Linked DNA regions of Homo sapiens. The protein of the gene in region 4 interacts with the protein of the main gene of each other region in a biochemical or structural test. Each region holds a gene or a part of one and is shown on either strand. Other genes may lie near its edges.

What was found.
Region 1: the proteins of NCBP2L (region 4) and LIN7A interact in a test that uses a peptide from one of them, tested with the Homo sapiens proteins (one large-scale study listed by IntAct).
Region 2: the proteins of NCBP2L (region 4) and APBA1 interact in a test that uses a peptide from one of them, tested with the Homo sapiens proteins (one large-scale study listed by IntAct).
Region 3: the proteins of NCBP2L (region 4) and CARD11 interact in a test that uses a peptide from one of them, tested with the Homo sapiens proteins (one large-scale study listed by IntAct).

Annotation. Positions count from the first base shown.
Region 1 is NC_000012.12:80,791,887-80,795,236, reverse strand, and holds the end of LIN7A (protein lin-7 homolog A), read left to right. Parts: 3' UTR 1-2,717; downstream 2,718-3,350. UniProt on the Homo sapiens protein: Plays a role in establishing and maintaining the asymmetric distribution of channels and receptors at the plasma membrane of polarized cells.
Region 2 is NC_000009.12:69,448,739-69,452,673, reverse strand, and holds part of APBA1 (amyloid-beta A4 precursor protein-binding family A member 1), read left to right. Parts: intron 1-372; coding exon 373-552; intron 553-2,877; coding exon 2,878-3,090; intron 3,091-3,935. UniProt on the Homo sapiens protein: Putative function in synaptic vesicle exocytosis by binding to Munc18-1, an essential component of the synaptic vesicle exocytotic machinery. May modulate processing of the amyloid-beta precursor protein (APP) and hence formation of APP-beta.
Region 3 is NC_000007.14:2,907,735-2,911,669, reverse strand, and holds part of CARD11 (caspase recruitment domain-containing protein 11), read left to right. Parts: intron 1-1,504; coding exon 1,505-1,620; intron 1,621-3,935. UniProt on the Homo sapiens protein: Adapter protein that plays a key role in adaptive immune response by transducing the activation of NF-kappa-B downstream of T-cell receptor (TCR) and B-cell receptor (BCR) engagement.
Region 4 is NC_000023.11:107,786,935-107,792,358, reverse strand, and holds part of NCBP2L (nuclear cap-binding protein subunit 2-like), read right to left. Parts: intron 1-5,424.

The sequences.
Region 1 (3,350 bases), on a different chromosome or scaffold from region 4:
TAAGCCACCTGTGGTTCTCTTAAGTTTCACTGAAGCCAGAAGAAGGAAATTACCACAACTTGTATTATACTAATTATCTTCATTATTAACGATCATATTAGAGCCACTGACATGTCCCAAATTATATTAAAATAAAAACCTGCATTGCTCTGACATGAAGCTCAATTCAATGTAATAAACAAATTAGGTATTAAACGTTATAATTTAAAAAACTTCTACGATATCACCAGAAATCCTGGTGAAATTTAATTTTTTCCCTTTTTTAGGTCAGTGGCCGGTGGGATAGATTTTTCTAAACTTTTTCCTGCTATGATTTTGAAGGCAAATACATAGAGCACAGTTCAGTAAAAGAGTTTCCAAGCCTTTTCACTGGAGCATTTACATTTTGATTCTGTTGTCATTTGAAATAGAACATCTGCAGGGAGATAATGAGCTTAAGTTACAATTGACTTTGGAAAGAATAACAGACTTTTGTGTTTCCTCAATCATGTAGTCAATAGGGAATTCTCCAGTTATGTGAACAATCACAGTCTTTTAAGACAATACTTAGATCTAAATGCAAAATCTAGCATGCAGAGGCTTTTTAAGGATTTTAGACTGTCTCCAAAGAACTTGGCTCGAGATGGATTACACAGATTTACAAATGCAGTTTTCAACTGTGACATCAAACTGATCTTATCTCATTTCATGTTACTCAACTGTGCCCGTAGGACCCCAAGAGGTGGAATATTTTGTCTACATTATTTTAAACATCTATAGATATGTGTGGATGTGTGAATAATGCCTAAATTTCTCATCTTTTAACTAGTTTGTTTTTATCATACAGACACAGCCTGTTCATAAGACCAGCTTTAGACAACTTAGAACTCAATGCTCTGAAGATTCAGGGAGGCCAACATAGAAAAAGATCTTCCAAAATATGGGGTGGTCCAACCCATCTCATCCCTCTCTAGCTGGAAAACTATAGAGAAAGGGCTGTGACTGCCTTGACCACTGCCTGGCACAATGTAGGCACTCGGTATTTGTTGGATGAATAAGTGGCTGAATCAGTGAATAGACAAAAAACATGGATTTTGCCTTCTGAAAATCTCACAAATTTTACCAGCTTATATTATACTGATTGTCACTATGATTTCTAAGTTTCATGGTTAGAACCATATTTTGAGTCTATATAAAAACTTTTTAGATGTATGAATTTGAAATTTCATTAATTACTTTAAAGGCTTCAAAGATTTGAGGACATTTGAACAGTGGATAAGGAACAATGTTTGGGGATACAGAGTTTTTATGCTGAGTTGAACTCAACCTTTCTAGTTCTTTATACAAGCTTCCTGAATTATCTGGCAGGAATGATTCAAACATAAAACCCCATTTTTAAATTTTATAAAAGATATTTTCATTTTTATATAAAAAGATCATCAGGCATATTATCCCCTTTGATATTTATTAACAACCATTCTCTAAGAAATTCATAATAATTGGAGACACCATCCCTAAATCTCTTCCTATTTTCAAAAGATCATTTATCCTTTCATATTTGATTCCTGGAATACACTAAGCTGAAGTTTAATCACATACTTACTCAGATGTTTCCATGTGTTTATTCATTTAACAAATACTTATTGTGTACCTAGTGCATGCTAGGTTCTGGAAATGCAACAGCAAACAAGACAGACACAATCCCTCTTGGAGGTTACTGTGAGAAACTCTCCAACATTTACTCTAGCAATAACTAGAGAGTTTACTGTCCATTGGGTCCTCTTCACACCTGATAGAAAAAATAAAATTCCTCACCCCATGGAAGTCATGAAATACTCCCTGCACAGATTTGTGTGAGCTTGCTTTTCTAAAACCACTGCTCAAAAATGCTGCTTAGTTTATCTATAAACCACGGTTATACCCCAGTGAGGTAGGTAAGTAATTTATTCATAACTAACATTTATGCAGCTCTATTTTCTAGCCACTGTGCTGAGTGCTTTTATGGACTATCTCACCAAATCCCTTCAACAACTCTATTCAGTAGGTTCCATTTTATAGATACAAAAACTGAAGCACAGATATATTATGTGACTTGTCCAAGGTCACACAGCTAGCAGGTGGAACTGGGATTTGAACCCATGCAATCTGACACAAGAGTTCATGTGTCTAATCATTATCTGTGGTTTGGGGGACACCATTACATTAAAATGAATGAGTCACTAAGTGAGTCACTGTATATAAAATACTTGGAAATTGTAAAGTAATATACAAAAGATATTAACAAAGTATTATTCATGGTAAACAAATCACATCAGTAGCAAACACAGGGTGGGAACTCAATCTTATGTTATAGCTTACTCTTAAGAAGAATATGTGAAGCCAGGAACATGGTTAAAGGTACAGACCAGAAAATTTCTGACATGTGATAAATATTTCAGTGACTTTTCAGATTTATTTCTTGTTAGCCGCTGTGTCTATTTGGTGCTACAAAAACTGAAAGAAACAAAATCCCTGATGTAAGGGCTTATAATAAATACACAGTTTGGAGATGAACTAAGGATATTTTACATTTACGGGAAAGGATTGGACAATAGTATCATTTTCTCACCATTTGCATGTACATCATGTCTTTCCAATTGTTTTCATTATTTTTCTGAAAGAGCTGCAAAATTGTGCAGTGGTTCAACCTGACCAAAGTGGTATTATGCTGCTGGGAAGTAAAAGTATTAGACACCAAACTGGAAGTATTGTTTTCATTATCAAATGACTTTAAGTTCTTTTAAAGCATGGATGTAAAAGAATTTTTAGATACTGAAGACACCTCAATATTGGGATGCTAAGTTTCTTGGGTTTCTCCATTCTTGACCACACAGTGGTGTCATTCTATTGAGGGCTTAGATTCTGTAAAGGAAAAGACAAATTTTTTTTTTTTTTGCTTTCTAGTCTCAAACTCAACATAGAACACTTCTGTGACCAAATGTAAAGGTTTCCCCACCCCCCCACCCCATCAATTTTCCAAGCAGGTACCAAATGGATGTCCTATAATTCAATTCAATTCTGAAACTATTTACTTGAAGATGGTGTAGATTCCACAGATTGAGGGCTCAGTCTCACAACACTTAGCCTACTTAAGATGCCAATTGCAAGTAGTAGGTTGTCACCTGTCCTTTGACTGGCTGGAGACTGAGATTCTCACAAGCCCTTCTTTGGGTTCAGCTGGGACAGCTCACAAAACTGAGGAAAACACCTACTTAGTTTACTGGTTTATTATAAAATGAATCATAAAGGGAATTTTTACCCAGTTCAAATTATATGGTCATGTAGTTACCAGAAACCTATATTCAAGAATGTTTATCAGTGTCCTTTCCATC
Region 2 (3,935 bases), on a different chromosome or scaffold from region 4:
TAACTGTAAACAAGTATTGCATGCACATGAATGTCCAGAGGGATCTGTGAAGATGGTGCAGGGTATAGAATGACTCATCACTGTATCGAGCTGTTTTTTGCATGGCAGGATATTCAGCATCTCTGACTCCTGTCTGCTGAATGCCGGTAGCTCCCTTATGATCATTGTCATAATCAAAAACATCCCCAGTCTTTCTGAAAATTGCCCCTGGTGGGCACTGGTAGCCCCACGTAGAACCACTGGCCCAGCAGGCGTGATGTCTAGGGTTTCCTCAGACTCCAGGAGGGCCATTGTTCAGGTGGGAAGTGCGCCAGGCCGCTCACCAGGTGCACTGCCCTGCTGACCATCTTTCCTCTCTGGCTGCTGTTCCAGGCTCAGCTGATTGCACAGTCCATCGGACAGGCATTTAGCGTGGCATACCAGGAATTCCTCAGGGCCAATGGGATTAACCCCGAAGATCTCAGCCAGAAGGAGTATAGTGACCTGCTCAATACCCAGGACATGTACAACGATGACCTGATCCACTTCTCCAAGTCGGAAAACTGTAAAGATGTGGGTACTTACCTGAAGCTGTTCTCCAGGCTGGGTCAGCTGGGCAGGGGCTTGGAAAGTGGGGCACCCTGCCGCGGAAGTGAAGGGAGATCAATGGTGAGGAGTGCCGTATTGGCAGGACATCATGAAGTCGTTCACCCCCATCTCTCGCTCCCTGCTGTGGGGCCCTGTCATGAAATGCTATTGTGGACAGGTGTAAACAGAGAGGCAGCACATCCTCTGCTCCTGGTCATCCTGAGCTAAGTTTTGGGTGGGTCCCAGAGGCAGATAGGACCTGAACTCTGCTTGTACAAACACTGCAATCTAGGTAAGGGCACTGAAAAAGTTAAATGATGGTGCCAGGTACAGGCACTAATCAAAACCAACTACACTTGGACAAACAGAGAAGATCTCAAGTTTCAGACAAGAGGTGCTGTGCTTCTCTGGGGATGGCCTGTGGCTTCAAACTGAGCTATTCAGGAATGCCTGTAGGAAGATGAGGCTATCCAAGCTGGTCTGGCGATCTGGGGATTGTAGGGGCAAGCCGAGGGTGGGGTCTATGGAATGGTTGGAAGCCTGGAGATCAGAAAGCTCCACATTTGTCTAGGGAATGAGGAAATACGGTTTGGCTAGAGCAGGAGGTAGGCACAGGAAAGGAGATAGATGGGCCTGAGATCTGGGTCAGAACTGGAGGGCCTGCAAGTCCAGCTGAGGGGTTTGGACTTGATCCCATAGGTAAAAAGAACTTTTAATGAGAAAGTGATCATTTGATCCACTGGGGTCTGTCAGGTGTCTTAGGTCAGATTCCCCAGAAGCAGAGCCTGAGGCAGGGATTCTTGTCACAGAGGTTTGTTGGGAGAGTGCCTCAGAACAGAAGGGATGTGGGAAGCTTGGTGGTGGGACACCAAGTAAGGGTGTGGTCCCTTGGACATGAGCTTCCTTCTGTCCAGAGGGAAGCTCCATGGCACATATTGCAGGACAGATTTGTCTCACCTTGGAGCGAGGGAGCTGGCAAGCCTTTGTACCCCATGCCGGTTATTGGCCAAGGCTGGACAGGGGGTATATGAATTTACTAGGGCTGTTGTCACAAAGTACCATGGACTGGGTGACTTCAACAACACAAACCTATTGTCTCACAGACCTTGTGGCCAGAAGTCCAAAAGCAAGGTGTTGTTAGCATTGGTTCCTTCTGAGAGCCGTGAGAGAAGAATCTGTTCCAAGCCTTTCTCTGGCTTGTAGATGGCTGTCTTCATGCTGTGTCTTCACATCAGCCTTTCTCCATGCATGTCCCTATGTCCAAATTTCCTCTTTTTTTTTTTGATACCCATGACAGACAACCATTCCTCTTCTTAAATAAGGACATGAGTAATATTGGATTAGAGTCCATATTAATCACCTCATTTAAAATTGGTTACCTCTGCTAAGACCTTATCTCCAAATAAAGTCACAATCTAAGTCAAAGGCACTGGGGGTTGGTAATTCAACATACAAATTTTGGGGGGACACAATTCAACCTTAACAGAATGTGTCTCCCTTTCAGCTAAGGACAGTTCTCCAGGGAAGGGGCTGACTGTAAGCTTCAGCAGCTGGGGGAAGCAGACACCAACCTGTGAAGGGGACTTTGTCAAGCCCCCCAAAAATACACATACACACTCTGTTGGGTGCTTCCAAGAGGTGTGGTACCTTTTAGTGGCATATCTGCAGGCCTCCCCAGAGTGCAAGTATCCAACATCAACCCCTGTCTTCTCTGCCCTGCCAGTGAAGGTTGTGAAAAGTCTGTGTATCCAGGATATGCACTTCCTGTGTGCACACCCAGCCTTTTGGTTGTGATAACTTCAGCATCACTTTTTCTTTTTTCTCAACTTTTTCCTTGCAGAGAAGTGTTTCTGTGTGTTTATTTATTTTTAACTCAAGAAAATTAAATGTCGGAGCGAATTGGGGAAGCACTGTGGGAGGGGGAACCTGCGCATGGAATTTGAAAAGCTATTTCTAGAAACCATAACACACCACCCACCCACAGAGCCTCATCCCCTGCCACTGAGGACAGGACTGAAGAAATTAAAAAAAAAAAAAAAAAAAAAAAAAACTGGTGGTCCTCATGGTTGTGTGCTGAGGCAAGTTTGCTTATGTGAAACGAGTGAATTACAAAAGAGTGTAGACCTGTGTGAATTCATTTCTTAAAAACTCCAAATATGCGGAATGCTGAGAAGACAGGAACTCATCTGGGTTGGTGTCCCCAGGGAAGTGTCTTTCTTTAGGCAAGACAGGAATGGGGGAGAGGCTTTCATTTCTACCTACCCCAGATGGTCACTGATGGAGGTTTTCTAAATGTTTTTCTCCTTCCAGGTTTTCATAGAGAAGCAGAAAGGAGAAATCCTAGGTGTGGTGATTGTGGAGTCTGGCTGGGGATCCATCCTCCCCACCGTGATCATTGCCAACATGATGCATGGTGGCCCTGCGGAGAAATCTGGGAAGCTGAATATCGGTGACCAGATCATGTCCATTAATGGCACCAGCCTGGTGGGCCTGCCTCTGTCCACCTGCCAGAGCATTATTAAGGTACCTGAATATGGGAAAAATCAGTTGATGTGGTAAACCTCAAGTGATGTGAAGTGTGACCCCCATCCAGTCATTAATGTATATGAACATATTCAAAGTGTCAGGCACCAAGGAAGACACAAACACAAAAGGCGTGGACTTGCACTCAGGAAGCTTACCATCAAGTTACTGTTTACAGATTCTTCCCTGAAATCAATTTAGATTAGGGGAAGTGTATTTGGTTCACATGACACTACTTTCTGATAGCAGCATGTCCATCACAGCATCACTAGTCAATCACAGCATTCTCCCACTAAGCCCAGACTCAGCCTCAACAGAAATGGCCTCAGCTTGGGAATCCAGACAGTCACTTATAGTCAGCCAGATACACTTGGCATGATTTACCATCCCTGTCAAAAATGTCAGAAATGCTTCAAATCTGAGAGTGCTTTTTCCTTCCCAGTGGCCCTGACTATGATGCAGGTGAGTTTGTCCTCCCTCAGACCCCGGGTAAAGCAACTCACATGTGCTCATTGCCAGAAGGAGGAGGAAACTCTCTTCCAGTCCATGGAAGCTTTTTCATACCTGAGCATACTTCCTGCTCAACCTGAACTGATGCTTATAAAGCTAAGAAGAGCTACTTAAAGGAAAATTAAATGTGAATACTTGAGAAGAAATGAGATTTTCTTTAGACATGAAGCATTCATGTGGAGTTTTTTGAGCACATTGGGACTTGCTGAATGCATGGCCAGTGTGACCAGGATGTTCCTCCTCCATGATGGCATCTGTAGACCCCAGTAGCTCTGCACCAAGTGCTGCGGTACTGTAGCTAGACTGAGATTCCACAGCGTTTTTTGGGGTCCTGT
Region 3 (3,935 bases), on a different chromosome or scaffold from region 4:
AAGAAAAGGCTCTCTGTCCGCGTCACTGGAGGGCTCCCCCAGCTGCCGGGGGCTGGCTCCGTGGTGGACGCTGACCTTGGGGATGGCAAGAGCAGATGGTGGTGTTTTTGTTTTTTTTAAGTCTGGGCCACAGCAGTTTAGGAAATTCTGATAGCTGGCGTGGATAGAAAGTGAGCAGACAGGGTTGGAGCTGAGATTGTTTTTAGCTGAAAAGAAGAAGCCTTCCAGCAGATCTGTGCTGTAGAAATGTGGGCCATGGTCCTATTGGTGGGGAATGGGGAGCAGTGGCCCCGCAGGAGGCCCAAGGAGACCCTGGGCGAGGGGGGTCATTCCCACCTCCAGACACGAGTGCTAGACTGCGTTCAGTTTGTGAAATTCACTGAGCTGCATGCTTAGAATGCTGTGTTTATGTTCTATTCCAATGCAAAGTTTGATGTTTTATTTATTTAGAGACTGGGGCTCGCTCTGTTGCCCAGCCTGGAGTGCAGGGCATGATCCCGGCTTACTGCAGCCGCGACTTCTAGGCTGAAGCAACTCTCCCGCCTCTGCCTCCCGAGTAGCTGGGACTACAGTTACTCACCACCATGCCCAGCTAATGATTTTCTAATTTTTTTAGAGATAGGGTCTTGTTATATTGCCCAGGCTGGTCTCGAACTCCTAGCGTCAAGCAATCCTCCCACCTCCCAAAGTGCTGGGATTGCTGGCATGAGCCACCATGCCAACATTTGGTGGAATTTTTTTTTAAGTGATGCCTTCAGCAAAGCAGAAATTGCCCTTTCTCAAAATGATGAGCTCATGGTTGAGAACCTTGCAGATACTCCTGGGACCTGCCAGCCTCGCCGCCTCACCCTTCATGTGTTCCCTACCCTCTTACTTGAAGGCTGGCTAGGGTAGCAGGTGTTTTGGGGTGTGTGTGTGTGTGCGTGTGTGTGTATGTGTGTGTGTGTGTGTTTGAGACAGTGTCTCACTCTGTCACCCAGGCTGGAATGCAGTGGCACCATCTCGGCTCACCGCAACCTCCACCTCCCGGGTTCAAGTGATTCTCCTGCCTCAGCCTCCCGAGTAGCTGGGATTACAGGCGTGGGCCACCGCACCCAGCTAATTTTTATACTTTTAGTAGAGACAGGGTTTTGCCGTGTTGGCCAGGCTGGTCTCGAACTCCTGACCCCAAGTGATCGGCCCGCCTGGGCCTCCCAAAGTGCTGGGATTACAGGCGTGAGCCACCACGCCCGGCTGGTAGCAGGTGTTTCATTCAAACTCATTCACGCCACCTGGTTCACCCCGTCCGGGGCCTCATCTCTGCCCATGAACATCACTGTGGTCAGCAGAGTCCTGGAGTGTCCAGACTCATGTGGGGGTCTCATCTCCTGGATCAGCGGCAGGTGGCTTTCAGGGCTCCCGCCCCGCTATAGACCCCAACCCTGCATCCAGGCCCCGCTGCAGGCACCTTCACAGGAGCGGGAGGTGGGTGGGCTGCTGCTGACCAAAGCCGCTGTGCCCGCAGAACAAGCACTGCCTGCTGGAGGCTGGGATCGGCTGCACAAGAGACTTGATCAAGTCCAACATCTACCCCATCGTGCTCTTCATCCGGGTGTGTGAGAAGAACATCAAGAGGTTCAGGTAGGGCTCCCAGACCCCTAAGGGCTGTCCCCTCCTGTCCCTAGCACCCCACCAAGCCTCCATGGATCGCAGGAGGCCTGTGTGCCCCCACCTCATGCACCCCTTTTGTAAACCCTCACCAAGTACGGGACTGACCTTGCAGAGCTGATGCCAAGGACAGCGGCCGAGATGGTGACTCACATATGGGGCGCATCCCAGGGGACAAGAGCTGGGAGGGACGGGGCGGAGTGCCCATCACCCAGGGTGGTCCGGGAAGGCCTGGGGTATCCATCAGCGAGACCCATGGCAGTGAGGGGGGCCTAGGAGATGAGAAAGAAGACGCAATCTGGGCAGCAGGGGAACAGCTGGTGCTCAGACCCTGAGACAGATGTTTGGGCGGAATGGTGAGGGACGGAGGGGTGAGGGGCGGAGTGGTGAGGGACAGAGGGGTGAGAGGCTGAGGAGTGAGGGGCGGAGGGTGAGGGACGGAGAGTGAGAGGCTGAGGGGTGAGGGGCGCAGGGGTGAGAGGCAGAGGGTGAGGGGTGGAGGGGTGAGGGGCGCAGGGGTGAGGGGCGGAGGGGTGAGAGGCTGGGGAGTGAGGGGCAGAGGGTGAGGGACAGAGGGGTGAGAGGCTGAGGAGTGAGGGGCGGAGGGTGAGGGACGGAGAGTGAGAGGCTGAGGGGTGAGGGGCAGCGGGTCCAGGCCATGCAGGGCCACGGGAGGCTGCGACATCTTGTTCTGGGTGCATCTGGAGGCCACTGAAGGTGGCATGGTCCACTTTAGGGTATAAACGCACCTCTCACCTCTGGACACGGGCAGGGTGGCGGTGTGGGCCGGGCTTCTGTCTGAGAGGCGATGAGAGGCAGTCTGACTCCGAATCCGTGTTCAGGGTCGAGCCTGCAGGATTCGGGAAAGGGTTCACTCTGGGGTTCCAGAGAACCAGAGGCTGGGCGCGGTGGCTCACGCCTATAATCCCCACACTTTGGGAGGCCAAGGTGGGCACATCAGCTGAAGTTGGTAGTTTGAGACCAGCTTGGCCAACATGGTGAAACCCCATCTCTACTAAAAATACAAAAAAAATTAGCTGGGCGTGGTGGCGGGCACCTGTAGTCCCAGCTACTCAGGAGGCAGAAGCAGGAGAATCGCTTGAACGTGGGAGGGGCAGGTTGCAGTGAGCTGAGATCGAGCCACTGCACTCCAGCCTGGGCGACAGAGTGAGACTCCATCTCAGAAAAAAAAAAACAAAAAAAAAAAAACGAAAGGACGGCGCTGAGGTTTGGGGCCTGGGTGATGAGGACAGACTGGCCCTTAAGTGGCTTCATCTCGGATCCCCGCCCCTCCTCGCACGCACCTGCAAAATAAATGTCCTGCCACCATTTTGCAGAGGGAATCACAGACTGAGAGTTTAGGCCCATTCATTCCTTTTCACCAGATACTCACTGAGCCATTGTGAAGGGTTAGGCTCTGGGGAACGCAGCAGTGAGCAAAAGAGACGGGCATCCCCCTCGATACCTCACACCCGTTAGGCTGGCCAGGACCAAAAGGACAGAAACTGACAAGTGTTGACGAGGAGGGTAGACGTCGGAACCCGGTGCACAGCTGCTGGAAATGCAAAAGAGAGCGGCCACTGTGGAGGACAGCATGGCGATGCCCCCAAAAATTAAAAATAGAATACTATATAATCCAGCAACCCCACCTGCGGGCATATCCCCAAGAGAATTGAGAGCAGGGTCTGTAAGAGACATATACACGCCCGTGTTCACAGCAGCGTTACTCCCAATAGCCAAAACGTAGACGTCACCTAAGGGTCGGTCTGTGGGGAGTGAATACACACAATAGGGCCCATCCATACAGGCTAGGAAGGTGGCAAGAGCTGAAAACCTTGCAAACTGTTAACAAAAAAAGAGTTGAAACAAAGAAACAATAATACATTTAATGCATGAGAAATACTAGCATGGTACATACCCCCTTCCCTGATCTGTCCTGCCTGGGAATGTGTTTATGGTGCAGTGTGTATCACAACAAAAATACTGTATGGAGTATTTTTTTTTTTTTGAGACGGAGTCTCACTCTGTCACCCAGGCTGAAGTGCAGTGGCACGATCTCGGCTCACTGCAGCCTCCACCTCCCAGGTTCAAGAGATTCTCCTACCTCAGCCTCCCGAGTAGCTGGGATTACAGGTGCCCACCACCATGCCTGGCTAATTTGTGTATTTTTACTAGAGATTGGGTTTCACCATGTTGGCCAGCTGGTCTCGAACTCCTGACTTCAAGTGATCCTCCTGCCTCGGCCTCCCAGAGTGCTGGGATTACAGGCCTGAGCCACCGCACCCGGC
Region 4 (5,424 bases):
CCTTTTTTTTTTTTTTTGATCTGGTTACTAGATAAGCTACCAGAGAATGTGATAGCTATAGTGGATTTCATTTCATCCAGGCATTGGACAAAGTTTGCCATAATTTCCTTGTAGATGAGATGGCAAAATATAAGCTGGATGCTTCAGGCATTTGTTGAGATGAGCCTATAACTAGTTGAACAACTATAGCCAAAGAAGCGAACACATGGTTTGGTGTCAGACTGGAAGGAAGGTTCTAGCAGAGAGCCAAAGGCTCTGTTATTGGCCATGTCTTGTTTGGCTCATTTATAACTTGGCTCACTACAAACAAGAGCTTTTAAAATGGTCAGAGCAGTCCAAAGACAATGGGCTGCCTTGAGCTAGGCACCCAGTAGTGAAGCAGTGGAGATGCCCCTTTGAATCAATGTAGTGTTATGACTCAAGCATGAATTTTGAAGTCAAAAGACCTTGGTTCAAATCTCAACTTCACCATTTACTAGCAATATGACCCTAGGCAGGGCACTTAACAATACTGATTTCAATCTTCTCATCTGTAAACTGGAGAGCAAAATACCTATCTTGCAACAAATACTGTGACAATGTCATATGTAAAAACACCCAGCACAGTGTTTGACACACTGTAGGTGTTCAATAAGCAATAGGTATTGTATCAATATTCTGATCAAGTGATTCAAAATAGGATATACAAATACATATCAAATCTACACATAACACAAAAATAAGAGGGACTTTGAAATGATCTGGGCAGTCTTACATGATGCTGAGCCCAAATTGACAAGATAATTGATGGATAGTACTTAAGAATAAATGTAAGGCCGGGTGCAGTGGCTCACGCCTGCAATCCCAGCACTTTGGGAGGCCGAGGCAGGTGGATTGCTTAATCCCAGGAGTTCAAGACCAGCCTGGGCAACATGGTGAAACCTCATCTTTACAACAGATTACAAATATTAGCATGGCGTGGTGGCATGTGACTATAGTCCCAGCTACTTGGAAGGCTGAGGTAGGAGGATCTAGAGCCCAGGAGATCGAGGCTGAAGTGAGCCATAATTGTGCCATTGCACTCCAGCCTGGGTGACAGAGTGAGACCCTGTCTCAGAAAAAAAAAAAAGTATAAATGTAAAGTATTACTTTCAAGCTCAACACGTGGCAAAAGGACAGATTGATGGATATTGGGAAAGATAACTGGCATGGGAGCTTTGTTTTATAATGTGGGGCATCCTCTACTTTATTCTTCTCTTCACTTGTTTCTCCATTCATTCAATCAACATTTATAGAGCACTATGTTAAATTCTGGGGAAACAATAAAAAGTAAGATGCAGCCCTTTCCCTCAGGTAGCTCACAATCTGGGGAGATGGACAACTTAACATACAAATTGCAATGCAATGTAATTATTCTAATCACAGGAGCACACAGTAGGCCCAGAGGTAGCACAAAGAAGGGAGTACAAAACTACAGAGGAGGATGAGGAGGGGAAAACAACTTTCTAAAGGACCTGATTCCTGAGCTTTTTTAACAAAAAATTTACGTAGTATTTACTTTTTTGAATAGTGAATTCAGATTTGTGTTACAAAATGCAGAATGTACAAATAGGTGGAAAAAGGAAGTCTTCTTCCCACTCCTGTGCCCCAGCCACCCAATCATTGTCACTAGTTTCTTGTGTATCTACCCAGACATAGTCTGAGTCCAATTTTGAAAGCTGAATAAAGATTTGACTGGAAGACCAAGGGGTCATTCTAGGCAGAGAGAACAGTGTGTATGAAGGCATGAAGGCGTGATGGGGGGTGTTCAGTCTGACGTTATTTGGGCAAAGAAAATAAGGAAAAGATGATAGGAGATAAGATTGGAAGGGTAGGCAAGGCCAGATTGTGAGGGGCCTTGTAAGCCTTGTGGAGCAGCTTGGACTGTACCAGTAAGCAGTGGGAACCATGATAGGGCTTCAAGCAGAGGAGTGATGTGATCTGATTTGCATTAGAGAAAATGCATTCTATCACAGTGTGAAGGATAGACTAAGGGGGAGCAGGCCAAGAGGCAGGAAGACCAGTTACGGAGCTATTTGAATGGTTAAAAAACAAAAAGATTATGGAAAGCCTGGACTAATAATATGCTGTAGTAACATAAAGGAAACACATCTCAGATAGATACTTAGAAGACAGACTGAACAGGTCTTGGTGACTGGTTGAATGAGAAATTCAGGATGACTACCGAGTTTCAGCACTGTGTAGATAGAGGTCAACTGTGTAGATAGAGGTCTGAGTCACCAAAATGGTGTCAGTTGGGCAGACAGAGGAGGAAGGGCAGATTGGAATAAAAAAGATGAATTTGGAACATACTGAGTTTGGTCTTGAGGTACCTGTAGGATGTGCCATATTACACGTGTCAAGTATTAACTAGTATATGGGTTTGGAGCTCTCAAGAGAGGTCTGTGTCTGGGACCACAGACACAGATTTGGGGCTCAATAGGATGGTAGATAAAACCATGGGTATGGATGAGATGATCTAGGGGAAAGGTGAGGAATGAAAAAACCTGGGAAAGACTGGCATTTAAGGGGTGGCAGACGAAAAGTCCACAAAACAGCATAAGAAGGAGTAATCAGAGAGGAATGAGGACAGTCAGAAGATGTGCAACATCACCAAAGCCAAGGAGTAGGTCATGAGAGTCATGAGGACAGAAGTAGGGTGAGAGCAATCAATTATGTTAAATACATCAGAGAGAGGTCCAGTAAAATAAAGACTTAACATTGTTCATTAGATTTGGCAATTAGGATGTCATTGGTTTACTTAAAAGAGAAATAACAGTGGTGTTCTGGGAACAGAAAAGCCATAGTGGGAGCTGAGTTTTTAACAGGAGGTGAGGAAATGGAGAGTGTCTACACTTTAGAAAAGATTCCATAACAATAAAAGAAGAGAAATAGGGCAAATGCCAGTTGGGGATAGAGGCGAAGGAAAATTTGTTTGTTTCTTTTTTTAGAGTGAAAGTTGATCATGCCTGAAGGTTGATGGGAAGCAGCCAGTAAGTAGAGAAGGAGTTGTTGAAGACACAGATGAGAGGAGGGATAACTGATGAAGTAAGTCCTCATGGAGGTGAGAAAGAATGGGCTCCAAAGCATACGTAGAGAAATTAGCCTTGAACTGGAGAAGCTATGTGTATTTCTGCAAGCCCAAAAAAAAAAAAAAAAAAAAAAAGAGGTTAGGACATGTAGGGACACAACTATGTGGCAGGGTGGGGTTAGGACAGGAAAATGAGTGTTAGCATCCAACGACCTAGATTTTCATAATGGAATAAGAGGTGAGATCATCTGCTGAGAATAAAGTGGATCATTGAAAATAGTTGGTGAAGCAGAGTGGAGGTAAAATGATTGAAAGGATGAAGCTTATAAATGGGTCATCTATGAGGACATTAAGATCACTCAGGATGGTGGCTAGAGTTGGGGTGGAAAGGAAGACTATCAGTGAGGAGGTGAAGTCCTCAATAGGTGAGAGAACTAAAGTACAGCAGATGATAGTAGGAAGGATTGGAAGAGGGTGGCTGTACCATCTCCAGGCCCCATGGGGTAAGAAAGAACAGAGAACCTCTACCACTGAAAACAGAGGTTTCTAGTTGATGTTAGGTACCTGACCCAAAGTAGGTACTCACTAGATGTGAAGAAGTGAGTTACTCTTTTTTAAGCTGGTATGATCATGAAATTGCATCAGACCATCACAAGGAGTGGCAGTCCCAATGTGCTCCATGCTGGTCAAACTACACAGCGAGCACTACGTTCCATTTCGAGGTACTGTATTTTAAAGTGAACATTTACAAATCATAGTGCATCTGATGTTTATTGAATGAATGAAGGGTCAAGAAGTAACTGAGGACTGATTAGAAATTGGGGATGTTTAGTCTAGCAAAGAGATGGTTAAAGGAGGATATGACAAATGTCTTGAAATATTGAAAGTGCTATTTCTGCTCCATATGATAAAAGTAAGATTAATGGATAGAAGTTAAAAACAGAAGATTACAATTCTTTTTTAGCAGAGTTTTTAATTCATCCAGTGATAGAATGTGAACTTACCTAATCTATTCATGTGGAGGCTGCAATGAACACCTACCTGCTAAAGGTGTTAGAAGGGTCACCCCCAAGGTTAACATCCCCAAAGGTTAAAGAGAAGATAGAAAAGCAATCCAGTTGCCAGGGACCACAGATCACCAAGTTGATCTGTAAACACTGTGAGAGAATATTTCCTACCTAAAAAGTAGAGCTTGGTTGGAGTGGAAAGCTTTCCTTGACTCTTGCTACTGGAGAAAATTAGTCAGAGAGTCTAAAAATAGAAGAAAAACATGAAGAATGGCTCAAAATGATCAGTCAAAATCCTAAGAGGACGGAGGAGAGGAGGTGGCAAAATAAAGTAAATTATCTTCCAGGAAACAAACTTCACTGGGCTTTTGGAGTTGGCAGGACTCTGCAAAGAATCTTTTCAATGGTTGCCTTAAACTAATGCTGGGATTGTTTCAACTATGTGAAAGGAACAAGGATCTGGACTCTTTAAAAAGCCAGGCTACTTTCTGCTCCAGATGAAGGCAGTAGCTCTAAGAAAGGAAATTAGAAAGCGCTGGGACAGTAGTGTTACTACATGCCTTACCTTTATAAGACTGTTCCTAATGGGTGAGAGAGCTGAGAGCCATTGTTGAGGACTGGAACCCTGTGGCCAAATATCTACTTTGTGCCAAGAGAAATTCATGTCTGATTGAGACTGCCTAGTGCTCAGAGTGACAGAAGATGTTCATATGTATTTAACACCTGTATTTAAATGAGTAGTTAAACATAAACATGTCATGGAGGTGAGAGATGAGAAATTACTTAATGGGTACAATCTACACTGTTTGGGTGACGGTTACATTAAAAGCCCAGACTTCACCACTCTGCAATATATCCATGTACCAAAACTGCACTCGAACCCCTTAAATTTGTACAAATAAATAAATAAACAAACATAAGCTGAAACAGACTGGCAGAACTAAAGCGGAGACAATGGCCTGAGACAGGCTACAGGAGAAAAGAGGATAATAAGTGACTGTTTAGTGTAGAAGCTGATCTGGATTAAATTAGGAAGCAGGTGTTAATGGATGCTTGAATTTTTTTGTTTATCATTTGCACTATATGGCCTTACTGTTCAAAGTGTTGTCCGTGGGCCAGCAGGAGCAGCACACCTGGGAGCTTTTTAGAAATGCAGGATCTCAGGCCCCTCCCTAGATCTGCTGAATAATAATCTTCATTTTAACGAGTTTCAGGTGATTTGAGTGCACAGTACAGTTTGAGAAGCACTGACGTATGTGGTTTCTTAGTTGAACTTTTGCCTAACAAAATTCTCTGTCCCTTCCTCCTTCCTTCTCTCCCTTGTACCACCTCTCCTAGTTTCCCAATCTTAGTTTCCTTGTGATCTGG